Linked DNA regions of Homo sapiens: region 2 is linked to region 1. The links come from fine-mapping of genetic effects on gene expression. A gene starts in region 1. The other region holds a variant in brackets. All regions are shown on one strand. Distances are from middle to middle. Region 1 holds the start of CDC42EP4 (CDC42 effector protein 4). Region 2 overlaps CDC42EP4 (CDC42 effector protein 4).

Evidence for each region. PIP is the estimated chance that this variant, and not a neighbour inherited with it, causes the effect.
Region 2: its variant is fine-mapped to the expression of CDC42EP4 in whole blood (TOPMed, PIP above 0.99).

The regions. Positions count from the first base shown.
Region 1 is chr17:73,310,790-73,313,685 of GRCh38, reverse strand. It overlaps CDC42EP4 (CDC42 effector protein 4), which reads left to right and starts at 1,685. Exons shown (of 2, transcript NM_012121.5): 1 at 1,685-1,793. RefSeq lists silencers at 1,307-1,466, 1,537-1,796, 2,247-2,796, 2,807-2,896.
Region 2 is chr17:73,288,927-73,291,822 of GRCh38, reverse strand. The region is part of intron 1 of CDC42EP4 (CDC42 effector protein 4); the gene reads left to right. Among named protein-coding and RNA genes, the nearest start is that of CDC42EP4, 22 kb to the left of the region's middle. RefSeq lists enhancers at 1-55, 39-333, 308-387, 678-897. The variant T/C (reference allele first, on the strand shown) is at 1,192.

The sequences.
Region 1 (2,896 bases):
AATGTAGACTTACAGACACTAAATCAGAGCCTCACACGCTTGTGACCTCAATGCCTTTCCTCCCTCTCTCCCTCTTCTTTTCCTTTCCTGCTTGCTTTTTCTCTTTTAAATACAGAAGTTCCCAAAACCTTTTTGGAAAAAAGGTGATTTTTCCCCGGTGGATCCTCAACCTTGGCTAACTAAACCTCTATTTGATTGAGATCTGCCTTAGTCACTTTTTGGTTTACATCCATGATAACCCCGCCAGGGTTTGAATCCACAGTGTCTGCCTCCCAAGTGGCTCCAAACCCTACCTTTCCCTCCAGATGTCCAGTTCAGAATTTGATTTTACTTATTATTCATTTATTTTTTTTTTTGAGATGGAGTCTACCTCTGTCACCCAGGCTAGAGTGCAATAGCGCGATCTCGGCTCACTGCAACCTCCACCTCCCAGGTTCAAGCGATTGTCCCGCCTCAGCCTCCTGGGTAGCTGGGATTACAGGCGCCCACCACCATGCCCGACTAATTTTTGTATTTTTGGTAGAGATGGGGTTTCGCCATGTTGGCCAGGCTGGTCTCAAACTTCTGACCTCAAGTGACCCCCCACCTGCCTTGGCCTCCCAAAATGCTAGGATTACAGGCATGAGCCACTGCGCCCAGCCCAGAACTTAATTTTCACAGCAGGATGGAGTGGCCAAACCATTAGCTCTCAAGAGCTGGTTGCTGTCGCACTGCAGAGGGAAACGGAAATGTGCTGTCCCCAGAAAGCAGAATGTTCCTGAGGGCTTAGGGACCTCGCAGCCATGGGGAAAGTCTGGGGCCTTCACCCTCACTTCCTTTAAAAACCGAGGGTGGGGTTCAGCTAGAGGCAAGGGAACTTTTCACTTTGCGCCTTGTCCACTTTAGTTGACTACTTCGCAGCTGGCATTCTACCTTGATAATGATCATTTCAACTGAAACTATTCCTCTAAAAAGAATAGAGTCCAAGGCCTGGGACTTGGATTCAGGCTCTGGGACTCAGGAGTTGATCCTCCTTGACGTTCACCTGGTGCAAATTTAGCCTCAGCTGATACTTAGGAGGCAAAGGCACAGACGGGGATGCGGGGAGCTCAAGGGCTGTCACCCTGTAGAAACATTTCTGACGCCCAGTCCAAGCCTGGCCTCGGGGCTGGCCGGCTCCTCCCCGCTCCCTCGTTTACAGCGAGAGTCTGGGATGGCACCCACGAAGCTGGTGGCGCCAGCCCTCCTGCCCCATCTCCCGACAGTACTGCAGCCAGGTGGTTAGCAGGTCCGGGAGGGAGCAGGAACGAGGAACGCCACCCGGGCTGGAGTTCTTGGTTTCTTGCCCCGGCTCGAATGGGGAAGAGCCTCAAAAGAGCCTCGCGCCAGGCCCCCGGAGGGAGACGCGCCCCTGGCCCTGGGGGCCCCAGTGGGGGTTCGCGGCCGGAGCGCAGGCTGGGGCGGGAGTGTCTCCCGGAAGCCGGGCGGGCCCAGGCTGCCCCATACGGAGTTGGGAAAGTCTCAGGCTTTCAGTTTGAACCGAGGAGGCCGAGCAGTCGGGCAGAGGTTCCCGACGGCCATTGGCTGCTGCGGCGCCGTGACATCAGCGCAGAGGGGTGCGCGGGGAGGGTTGCGCGGGGCGGGCGCGGGCGGAGCCTGGAAGGGGAGTGTCCTGGAGGCTCCCAGCCCTGAAAGCCCGAGAGCCAGAGGGAAACAAACGCCGGCGCTGACAGGGGCCGCCAGCCCCTCCGCCGCGCGGAGCCCACGAAGGGGACAGCGCAGCCGGCCCAGAGCTCGGGTCTCCGGGGACCGAGGTAGGCGACGGGCAACCGCCTCTGTCTGTGGTAGCCGCCTTCGCGCTGGGTGCCCTGGGTGGGCTTGGGGGTCTCGAGTCCCCCTGTGGGGCAGAGAGGATCGAAGCTGGGGATGCGAGGCCGCGGCGCGGGGAGAAGGGCGCGGAGCCCCCACTTCTCGGCGCTCGCGCTTTTCACCGCGCCCACCGCGGTGCCTGGGACCCTAAGCTGCGCACCTAGTGTCCTGGCAGAGCGGGATGTGTGGAGGAGGAGGTGGCAGGGAGCCGGGCGCAGCGTTGCCGGGACTCCATTTCCTCTCTCCACGCTGGAACTCCCGGCCCTGGCCAAGGGTGCCGCTGAGGGGGTTGGGGGCCGGTTTTAAAGGGCCTCCCCCTTCCCAGGAATGGGGTGTGTGTCGGTGTGGGCAGGAGCGCAGCAATCGGCGGCGCGCGGCCCGCGATCTCCGCGAGGGGGGCGTGTGTGCGCCCGGAGTTCTCCATGAATAAGAACCGAATTCTCCGCCTGTACGGGCAGAGGCGTGTACACATCTCGCTCTCGTACACACACTGCAGCACACGCCACCCAATGTCACCCGGCCGGGAAGCCAGAGGGAAGGAGCTGTCTGGAAGGGAATGGCCGAAGGAACAAATGGTCCTCCTTTCCCCTACTCCCGCCCCGCGAACCCTTCCCTCCCCCGCCAGGCTCCCGCCCCGCCCGCTCCCTCGGAAGCCCGGGAGGCCGAGGCGCCTCCTGGCGGGGTGCGGGGGGAGGGCAGTCGAGCCACCCGCCCCCTTGGAGCCGGGGAGACGGCCGCTCCTGGGCTAGTGCGCCCCGAGCTCAGCGCGCTCAGCGGGATCGCAGGCGGGAGCGGTCGGTTAATGATTTAATCGCCCGCTTGGGGCGGGTGCGCGCGGATCGGCCGTCCCTGGCCCCGCCCCCTCTCCGGAGCGCCCCCAGCCGGGGTTACAAAACTGCCCCCTGCCCCCGGCGCGTCCCCCAGGAGCCATCCTGCCCGCGGGGATCCCGTCAGCCGGTGAGTGCCCCGGCCGGGAGGGCTGGAGAGCTGGGCGGGAGCCGGGGCTGAGGCTGAGCCAGCTTCCTGGGAGAGGACTGAAGTGCGTGTG
Region 2 (2,896 bases), 22 kb after region 1:
TCAGTGGGCTGAGGGTAGAGGAATCTGTTCCTCCGGAGGCTCAGGAGAGCTAGGGAGGGCTGTGAGCTGTGATCCATTTTCCCTCTCCCTGCCAAGAAAGTGGGATGTGGTTTCTGGGGTGGGGTGGGGGTGTCCCGCCCAAGGCAGGCTATGGGGAGTGCCTGCCCCACGTTGGGCAGCCTATTTTAGCCACTTCCCCAGAGCTGAGTCACCATGCTTCTGAAAGCCCCGCCCAAAGCCACAATGCCCTGTGGCCTCCCAAACCATAGCTGCCCCCAGGACCTGCCCAGGCCTCTGGCGAGACTCCCACCACCTACTTTCTCTTAAACTCTATGATCCAGCTCGTCACCTCCAAACTGTTCTCTGTTAGAAGCTCAGAGTGACTCAAGGTCACTCAAGGCTGGTGAAACCAAGCTGTTGCTGACCCTCAATCCTGCTGGGTGGCCTGTCTAGTCTGAGCTCCAGACACCCAGGCCTCATCCCCAGTGTGGACTGCCAGGTACTGCAGCCCCCTCCTCGCTGGGGCAGTGGGACAGATGCGTGACTCCCTCTAGGCCCCAACTCTCTCAGGACCCTTCCTTGCTGGTTATTGAAGATGGCTTTCTACAAGCCACAAAGTCTCGTTCCCAACCCCCCAGGAAGCGAGACCGTGGCAGCAGGCAGCACTGGGTAGACCTGTCCCTGTCTTTCTGGGGTGTGGGGTTGAACAAGATCCTGGGGACCCCAGGGCTAGCCCAGGATGGCCGTGATTTCAGCTGAGTTTCCCTGCTGTCCCCTCTGACCTACCTCAATAGTTCTACCCGCAAGGATGTGCTGGGTGGTGTGGCTAATGGGATGCGGGGAGCTGTCCTCCCCTGTAGCCATCATGGCCAGGATATTTGGTCCCTTTGGGCAGCCACAGTGACCTGCAGCTTCTCTGGTGAGTCCTGGGGAGCCGGGTCTGTGGTTTCCCTTTCTTTCCTCTCTAATGAGCGTATAAGATCGGGAAACCACAGGACCTGACATCACTCACAGGGTCTGGGGGTTCCTGCCTTGGCGTTGAAACCCTTAACGCAGCTCTGGGGGCTCGTGCCGCCATGTTCTCACCCGGTTCTGACCATCCACACCCGCCTCCCTGCTTCTCTGTCTTTGTTGTTTACCTGGTGAGCATACCTGCTCTATCTTCACCTGTGTGTTCTCACTCAAGGCTGC[T/C]GTTTCTCAACTGGGGCAGTTTTGCCTCCTGGGGGACATTGGGCAATATCTTGAGACAGTTTTGCTTGTTGTGACTGGGGGGTGGATGCTACTGGCATCTAATGGGTAGAGACCAGGGATGCTGCTGAATATCCTACAGTGCACAGGGCAGGTCCACCTCCCGATGAGAAATTATCTGGCCCAAATAGCAACAGTGTGGAACCTGCTCTAGGATTACACAAGAACCTTCTTGAAGCAGCTGTTGGGTACCCCCTTCTCTGTACCCTGCCGGCCAGCAGTGGGGAGGAGCACTCAGTGGTCGGTGGTCACTGACCAGCAATGCCGCCGCCAGAGCTGGAGAAGGGCCTGGAGTGGAGCGGAGAGAGCTCTGGACTCAAAGACCCAGTTTCTAGCCCAGCTCTGTTGCTTTGGGCTAAAAACCTGGATAAATCACTTTCCTTCAATAAACTTGTTTCCTCATCCATAAAGTGAAAGTGCTGCACTGAATATCCCCTCCAGTTCTTTGAGATTCCTGGATGCTGTGCGTAGAGCCAGGAGTCGGGGTGCAGGCAGGTGGAAGATGGGGTCCCCTCCGTTCCTGACTGGTGTCCCTGCTGGTGGCAGTAGAAGCCTGAAGGATTTGCCAGGAACGAGAGTTCGTTTGAAGCTTGGCCTTTTTCCCTTCTATGCCCAACGTGACTGAGGCAGAGTCTACCTTCTCTTTTTCTTTTTCTTTTCTTCTGCTGCTTCTTTTTCTCTTTCTTTCCTTCCTTGCTTTTCTTTTCCTTTCTTCCTTTCTTCTCTTCCTTTCCTTTCCTTCTTTCCTTTCTTTTTCTTTCTCTCTTTCTTTTTTTCTTTCCTTATTTCCTTTCCTTCCTTCCTTTCCTTCCCCTCCCTTCCTCCCTCCCTTCCTCCCTCCCTCCCTTCCTCCCTTCCTGTTTTCTTCAGAGTTTTGCCTAGGAGCCCATGGCTGGCCAAGAGGGTCATATATGATATTCAGGAGTCAGCAAACTACAGTCCATGGGCCAAACCCAGCCTGCGTTTGCTTTTGTAAATAAAGATGTGGCTTTTTGGTGGTTTTTTTTCTTTTACTGGTTTATTACAAAAGATACGACTCAGGAACAGCCAAACGGAAGAGCTGCATGAGGATGCGTGGGGTCAAGTGTTGGGGTGGGGGGCAGGGCACGCACCACCTTCCTGGCACCTCGATCTGCTCACCAACCCAGAAGTTGTCTGTAAATAAAATGTTATTGGAACATAGCCATGCCTACTTGTTTACATGTTGCTATGGCTCCTTTCTTTCTTTTTTTGATTTTGTGTAGAGATGGGGTCTCACCGTGTTGCCCAGGCTGGTCTGGAACTCCTGGGCTCAACTGATCCTCCTGCCGTAGCCTCCCAGAGTGCTGGGATTACAGTTGTGACCCACTGTGCCCGGCCAACGGCTAGTTTTATACTAAGAAGACAGTTGAGTAGCTGTGACAAAAACCCTATCAGCCACAAGGCCGAGAATATTTACTCTCTGGCCCTTTGCAAAAAGTGTTTGCTGACCTTTGGTCTAGCGGTTCAATGTCTAATTGTTTAGAGGTTGAGGTGGGGCAGGAGGGTGGGGCCCAGAGATAATCCAAGTTAGAGTTAGGGGAAGGTCACTTTCCTAAGGGTAGGGAGGAGAGAGAGCTGACCTATGACCCAGAGTAGAGTATCATCTCAAGGCATCCCTCACGTCCTC